Linked DNA regions of Homo sapiens. The protein of the gene in region 1 purifies or fractionates together with the protein of each later gene. This does not show direct contact. Each region holds a gene or a part of one and is shown in the gene's direction. Other genes may lie near its edges.

What was found.
Region 2: the proteins of TMIE (region 1) and TRIM3 purify together in Homo sapiens (affinity purification with mass spectrometry; one large-scale study listed by BioGRID and IntAct). This does not show direct contact.

The regions. Positions count from the first base shown.
Region 1 is NC_000003.12:46,704,271-46,708,079, forward strand, and holds part of TMIE (transmembrane inner ear expressed protein isoform 1 precursor), read left to right. Parts: intron 1-1,519; coding exon 1,520-1,637; intron 1,638-3,809. UniProt on the Homo sapiens protein: Auxiliary subunit of the mechanotransducer (MET) non-specific cation channel complex located at the tips of stereocilia of cochlear hair cells and that mediates sensory transduction in the auditory system.
Region 2 is NC_000011.10:6,460,429-6,464,240, reverse strand, and holds part of TRIM3 (tripartite motif-containing protein 3), read left to right. Parts: intron 1-3,812.

The DNA.
Region 1 (3,809 bases):
CACCCAGGGCAGGACCATGTCCCTAGACACCCAGGGCAGGACCATGTCCCTAGACACCCAGGGCAGGAACATGTCCCCTAGACACCCAAGGTGGACCATGTCCCTAGACACTCAGGGTGGACTATGTCCCCTAGAGACCCAGGGTGGACCATGTCGCCTAGACACCCAGGGCAGGACCATGTCCCCTAGACACCCAGGGCAGGACCATGTCCCTAGATGCCCAGGGCAGGACCGTGTCCCCTAGACGCCCAGGGCAGGACCGTGTCCCCTAGACGCCCAGGGCAGGACCATGTCCCCTAGACGCCCAGGGCAGGATCATGTCCCTAGACACCCAGGGTGGACCATGTCCCCTAGACACCCAGGGTGGACCATGTCCCCTAGACACCCAGGGCCAGGGTCATGTCCCTAGACACCCAGGGTGAAGCACGTCCACTAGACACCCAGGGTGGACCATGTCCCCTAGACACCCAGGGCAGGACCATGTCCCCTAGACACCCAGGGCCAGGGTCATGTCCCTAGACACCCAGGGTGAAGCATGTCCCCTAGACACCCAGGGTGGACCATGTCCCCTAGACACCCAGGGTGGACCATGTCCCCTAGACACCCAGGGCCAGGGTCATGTCCCTAGACAGCCAGGAGCAGGGTTGTCTCCCCTCAGACCTGGGCAGAACTATGTCCCCTAGACACCCAGGAGAAGGGCTGTGTCCTCTCAGACCTGGGGCTGGGCCATGTCCCTTAGATATCCAGGATGAGGCCATGTCCTCTCAGAACTGGGGCAGGACTGTGTCCTCTAGACCCTGGGGCAGTGTCCTATCCCCTCAGTCCCCCAGGGCAGGGTCATGTCCACCTGGAAAGTGGGAGTGTCTGGCTGTGCTCTATTCAGGCTTGCTACAGCCGCACTTCTGCCTTTTGGCCTCCAGGTGTCGCCACAGCACTGCAGACCTTTTATTTATCCAGTGCCTGTCCTGTGGACACTCTGGGAGAGTCTTCTGTTCAGAGTGACTCCTAGTAGGGTAGGCGACCAAAGGAGGCCACCTGGCAGGGGTCCAGGCCAGCTGGCAGAACTATGTGGCCCAGACTCCTAGCTCCACACCCCACCCTCACTGGGGAGATGTGAGAGCAAAGCCAGTTAGCCAGCACCCCCCAGGCCTCGCCTTGTCTCTGGCCTTGGTCCTGAGACCCCATCTGCCTGGGTGGAGCCCAGGACTGGAGTAGGAGGGTGTGTTCATAGGGGCCTTGAACCTGGCCAGGACAAGCCATCCACATTTGCTCCTCCAGGCCTTGGTTTCCCCAAGCATCAACCACCCTCCCACTTCAAGTACCTGGCTCTGCTCAGTTCTCTTGCTCTAAATCTGGAACTTTCCAAGGTCTAGGGTGTTGGTAGTGCATGCTTAAGAGAGTTGATTCTAGGAGATTCTGATATGCTTGGGCTGAGTGTTTGCTGAGACCTGGGCCCTTCTCAGCTGGTTCCAGCCAGCTGGCCTCTGCCTAACTCACTCCCCTCTCTCCTGACCCACAGCCCAGCACGGCCCCACCCAAGCCCAAGCCGCCTCCGCTGACCAAGGAGACAGTGGTGTTCTGGGACATGCGCCTGTGGCACGTGGTGGGCATCTTTTCGCTCTTCGTGTTGTCCATCAGTGAGTAGCTGTTCCCTTCCCTCTCCACCACACTGCAGTGGGAACACAGCACCCCCTGCCCCCCAGAGGGCTCAGAGCAGCAATTCCGGGCAGTGCAAGTAGGCCAGGCACCCGCAGGAGACCCGCGGTGGTTTCTGGCACCTCCTGATCCACACAAACTCCCCGTGGAGGGCTGACAGGCCGGTGGTGACCTGAAGTATTCTGCAGGACCCAGGGAGGTAGCCACATGGCAATTATGGTAATTACAGGGAACTCCACTGAACCAAGGACTGGGACGAGGACGTGTCATTTTTCCCTATGGCTGGCCTCCTGATGCTTTTCCTGCAGTTTGGCCAGCTTAAAGGCCCACACCCAGGGGCCCCAGCAAGGCCATCCTCCACTAGAGGCTCCCCAGACACCCAGCAGATGTGGCTCCCAGGCTTCAATCCCTGCCTTGTCAAATACCATTTTCCGGGAGTGACTCACACCCGCCTCAATTAAAAGCAGGAAACCCATTCCTCTCCTGGGCTCTGGGAGCTTCTTGATGCAAAGTCGCAGCAGAAATGGGCTTGGCCGGCTCCCCTTAGCCCTCCCCTCAGAATGGAGGTCTGGAGTTGGGGAAGGGGACAGAAAGGCACAGGAGACAGAGGCCAAGTGGGGAGGCTGCCATGGCACAAAGCAGTCTGACAGAGGTTCCCACGAGGCAAAAGCAGAGTGGGGGGGAATGTAGGAGGTAAAGGGAGAAGCAGCCCACTCCCCTGCAAAGGCATCACAGAGGAGGGTCCTCTGAGGAGGAGGGTCCTCTGAGCTGCAGACCGGTGGGAGGGTAGGTGGGGTTTTGCAGGAGGGAAGGCTGGAAAGGCATTCCGGGAGAGGGGATGTGAGCAGAGGCTGGAGGAAATGCAGCCTCACGCAGGGTCTCAGATGAACCCAACTGGACATTTGCTGAGTGCACCCTGGGTGGGGAGGCAAAAGCTGCACTTCGTCCCAGCCGGAGCTGTCCCGGGATGAGGTGCCCCAGAGAGCTGGGTGGCCCACAGAGAGCCCACCCAGATGTGAGGGGCTCCAAGGAAGACGTGACATCTGATTTGCACGTGCTTCTCCTGGCACCAGAAGTGCTGTCCCAAGAGAAAATATCTGCCCTGCAGAAAATCCCCGCCCCCCATCTGAGCAAGAGCCTGTGCTTTGTTCCCAGCCGAGGCTGAGAACCAGTCAGGCATCTTTGTGGAGGCCCCACAGACAGATAGGTGTGCCTGCAGCCTCAGCCAGGTGTCCAGAGAGGGAAACAGCCCGCTGCAGGGCTCGGGGGTCATCTGCCCTACAGGAGCCACAGGCACAGCCTAGGATGCAGGTCTACGGAGCAGCAGGGAGAGCACTGTGGGCCTCAAGACACAACAAAGGTGCCTGGGGCCACATGAGAAAATTGCAGTGTCAGACCCCAAGCGGCACTTGGACATCAACCACACAGACCATCTCTAACCCCATTTCCTAGAAAGGGTAAAGGATAGTCCCAAGACACCTGAGCAGCAGGCAGCACTTGTTACCTTCCATTGCCGGATCTAGGCAGTGGGGGCAACACAGCTCCCTCTCCTGGGGGGAAACATTTTTCCTGCTTCCCAGTCTGCCTGGGCTGTTATTGGAGCATCACCCCCAAAGCCCTGCAGGAAAAGGGGCTGGGGCTAGATGGGGTGCCCCTGGAGGTCTCCTCCAGCCCCAGGGACTTATATCCCAAGCCCCTGCCTGGGCCCTGGAACTTGACCCAAAGCTCTTTGCATCTCCCCTTCTTTGAAGAGAAGCAAACAGGCCAGGCTGTGCGGGGCAGGCCTGAAGTGAGGGGTGGTGTTTGAGCCCGGCTCTGGCTGCCGTCAGTGGCCCACTGAGCTCCTTAGGAAGCCCCAGCCTCCCGGGGCCTGGGACCAGCCTGCATGGAGCCTGAGTGGGCATAGTCCCAAGGAGGTTCCTGGTGGGGTGGCTAGAAGAGGTGGCCTAAGCCGGGAGGGTTAGGATTGGGTACCAACTTCGAGTCTCAGGCATGAACACAGGTTCTGGAGAAATCCAGGACCCAGCTTCTTGGATAAGGCCTGCTGTCTGCTCAGGTCCACCCCTGGACAGTCGGATCTATAGCTGGGGCCCTTGTGCAGCACCCTCCTCCAAGTGTATGCCTGGATGCTATTGGCTCCCCAATTCATTCAC
Region 2 (3,812 bases), on another chromosome or scaffold:
TATTATGGGATGAAGCTGGAGAGGTAGGTGGAGGCCAGACCACCTAGGGCTTTGTAGACCTGTTAGGGAATTTCACCTTTACCCTGAGAGCCACATGAAGCCTTTGCAGGGTTTTATATGTGATCACATCTGTATTTTGACAATATTCTCTTGGGCCCTTATCTCTCATTGTTCTGTCTTGGGTGGCCTGGTCCCTAGGTCTTCTCACCACCACTGCCTCTATCCGCACTTTTCCTCTGCCTTCTGCCCCAACGGAAACCTGGCTCTGCACCAGAGATACTGCTTCCCTGCCAGCCCTGCTCTTTGAGATTCCAGCTCCACTGCCCACTCTCCTTTATCAACTGGAAATGGCCTCAGTTTTCCTGTCCATTCAAGTTCTTCTGTCAGCCTGGGGACAACCACCCTCTTGTGCCTGTTGGTTCTTAACTGTTTCTTCAGGGTTGTCCCCCATTCCACCTCAGTAACACTCCCTCCCAACCATGCCCTGAATCTTATAATCCAGAATCTTATCTGTAGTCATAAACGCCAACGTTCCACTCCTGGCTCCCGTTACCCCACTCCCATTACACCACTTTCGATACAATATAGATATCTAGCCCCTTTGACTGCTCCCTCTTTTCCCAGTCACCAGCTGCGTCCTGGCCTCCCTGTCTTTCCTGCCCATCCTGGACCCTGTGGCTGACCGACTGGCTCCCCTGCAGTTCCTTCACATCTTTATCCTTTGCAAAACCCATGCAATAGAAGCTCAATGTTGGATCAGAGCTGAAATTGGATGTCTCTGCACTTTCTCCTGTGCCCAGATCACTGAGCACTCCTGGAGAAAATCTGGCTGAGAAATTGTAATAACAGTAGCTACCATGTATTGATTGCTTACTGTTTGCCAGGGACTGGCTAAGTGATTTATACATACTGATTTCCTTAATCCCTGCAACAGATACTTTATTAACTTCATTTTATTTTTTTATTTTAATTTTTTAATGTAACTTTTCATTTTAATTTTTTTTGGTTTGTTTTTTGTTTTTGTTTTTGTTTTTTTGAGACAGAGTCTCTCTCTGTCACCCAGGCTGGAGTGCAGTGGCGCCATCTTGGCTCACTGCAATCTCTGCCTCCTGGGTTCAAGTGATTCTCCTGCCTCAGCCTCCCAAGTAGCTGGGACTACAGGCGCACGCCACCACATCCGGTTAATTTTTGCATTTTTAGTAGAGATGGGGTTTCACCATGTTGGCCAGGCTGGTCTCGAACTCCTGACCTTGTGATCTGCCCGCCTCAGCCTCCCAAAGTTCTGGGATTCCAGGCGTGAGTCACCGTGCCCAGCTTGTTTCAATTTTTTAAATTTTATTTTTTTTTTAGAGATGAGTGTCTTGCTATATTGCCCAAACTGGACTTGAACTCCTGGGCTCAAGTGATCCTCCTGCCTCAGCCTCCTGAGTAGCTGGGATTACAGGTGCAGGCTACCACACCCAGGTATCCCCATATTAGAGAGGAGGAAACTAAGGTTCAAAGTCAGTAAATAATTAAGAAATATCTCTGGCCAGGTGCAGTTGCTCATGCCTGTAATCCCAGCACTTTGGGAGGCCAAGGTGGGAGGATCACTTGAGCCTAGGAGTTCCAGAGTAGCTTGGGAAACAACATAGTGAGATGCAGTCTCTAAAAAAGAATTTAAAAATTAGCTGGGTGTGGTGGCATGCACCTGTAGTTCTAGCTAATCGGGAGGCTGAGGTGGGAGGATCATTTGAGCCTGGGAGGTGGAGGCTGCAGTGAGCCATGATCACATCACTGCACTCTAGCCTGGGTGACAGAGAGAGGCTCTATCTTAAATTAAATAAACAAATAAAAAAAAAGAAATATTTCCAAGGCTACACAGTAAGTAAATAGCTGAGATCTGAATCCAGTTTTCACTGCAGAGCCTTCACTGTCAACTAGTATTCATTCATGTATCCCTTGGTCCCTGCTCTCAGAGGATGTTCTAGTGGGCAGTGACTGACAGTAAGCAATCAAGAAAACGAGAGCTGCAGCTTGTATTAATGTTTTACAGGATATAAACAGAGAGAAGTAGGGGTGTTTGGGGCAAGAACTATTCTATATAGTCATCAAGGAAGGCTTCCCTGAGGAGGTGACATTTGACCTGAGTTCTGAGGATAAGAAGGAGACAGATTGTTCCAGGCAATAGAAAAATCTGTGCAAAGGCCTTGAGGAAGAAGTAGACAGGACATGTTCAGATACCAGAAAAGAAACCAGTGTGGCCAAGTGAGGAGTAAAGTGGGATGAGGTGAAATTGGAGAGAATAAGGGCAGTTTAAGGGGGAGCTTGTAGGTTTTCAGAAAGTGTTTGGATTTTATTTTAAGTGCAATGGGAAACCATTGGAGTTTTTAAAAATATATATATACAGGGAAATAATGTAATGTAAAAAGTTCACCCTAGCTGTTATGGAGAGAATGGATTATAAAGGAGCAAGAGTGGAAACAGAGACCAGTTAGGAAGCTATCGTGAGCCAGGTACACTTGACAAATAGGAAGGGGATATTGCTGAATTAGAAGGTGTTTTGCATGGGGAAACACTAGATTCAGTGAGCTTGGAAGAAAGCTGCTGAAGAATAGAGTAGAATGGTTGAAATGCAGTGATAGTTGATGAGAAGTGGGTGTTAGTGGGAGCATGGGAAATGGGGGAAAAGATCACTGGGGGTGAGAAGGTCAAGGAATTAAGAAATCACAATGGGGGATGGATGTTAGTGCCACTGAGAATGATGGCAGAGTGGTGCGGGGGGTAATGGAAGAAGAGAGTGAGCCAAGAGAAAGATGTCCACAATTGGAAGTGGGGGCAACCATTAGGTTAGCAGAGACAACAATAAGGAGGAGTGATAGAGATAGAAGGCATGAGCTTCAAAGGAGCTAGAGTTGAATAGTTCAGAAATGTTCCAGTTGGGAAGAGGGAGGGCTCAAGCCCACCTTCTGGCCCTAAGGAGTGTGGAGTATGAGACAGAAACCACTCTACTTGAGAGGACTGCAAGGAAAAGTAAGTCACAATTAAATAAGTTACACTGGGCATGGTGGCTCATGCCTGTAATCCCAGCACTTTGGGAGGCCGAGACGGGCAGATCACCTGAGGTCAGGAGTTTGAGACCAGCCTGGCCAACATGACAAAACCCCATCTCTACTAAAAATACAAAAATTAGCCAGGCGTGATGGTGTGAGCCTATAATCCCAGCTGCTCGGGAGGCTGAGGCAAGAGAATCGCTTGAACCCGGGAGGTGGAGGTTGCAGTGAGCCAAGATTGTGCTACTGCACTCACACCTGGGTGACAGAGCAGGACTCCGTCTCAAAAAAAAAAAAAAAAAAAAAAAAAGCCACCAAAAAAACAAAAACAAAGAAAACACAATTAAATAAGTTAATACTTGTGAAGCACTTAGAATCATGCCTGGCACATAGTGTTTGTCAGATTTTAATTAAGATCCTAAGTTATAGGAAACATTAAGAGTTGAGATTGAGGATATGGGAGAGTTTGCATAATGCAGATCTTCACTCCACAAATTTGAGGTCCCCAAATACAGCTGCCTTCAGTTCTGATGTCTGTTTCTAGTAAGTGTCCTCTGCTCTCCCATCACTGACTAATCTGAGCCATCATCAGGCCCCTGAATCCTCCATCCTTCACTCTCCTATGTCCCTAGTGCCTCTCTATATCCTCCTCTCCTTTCCTCCTTCCCTCCATTCAGAGACTGACGTCCAGTCCTCCTCTTCAGGCCAATCCGAGGCACTCCCCAATCCTCAAGATCTTCTCCTCTCAGTTTTGTAGTCTCTTCCCCCTCTCCTTCTCTC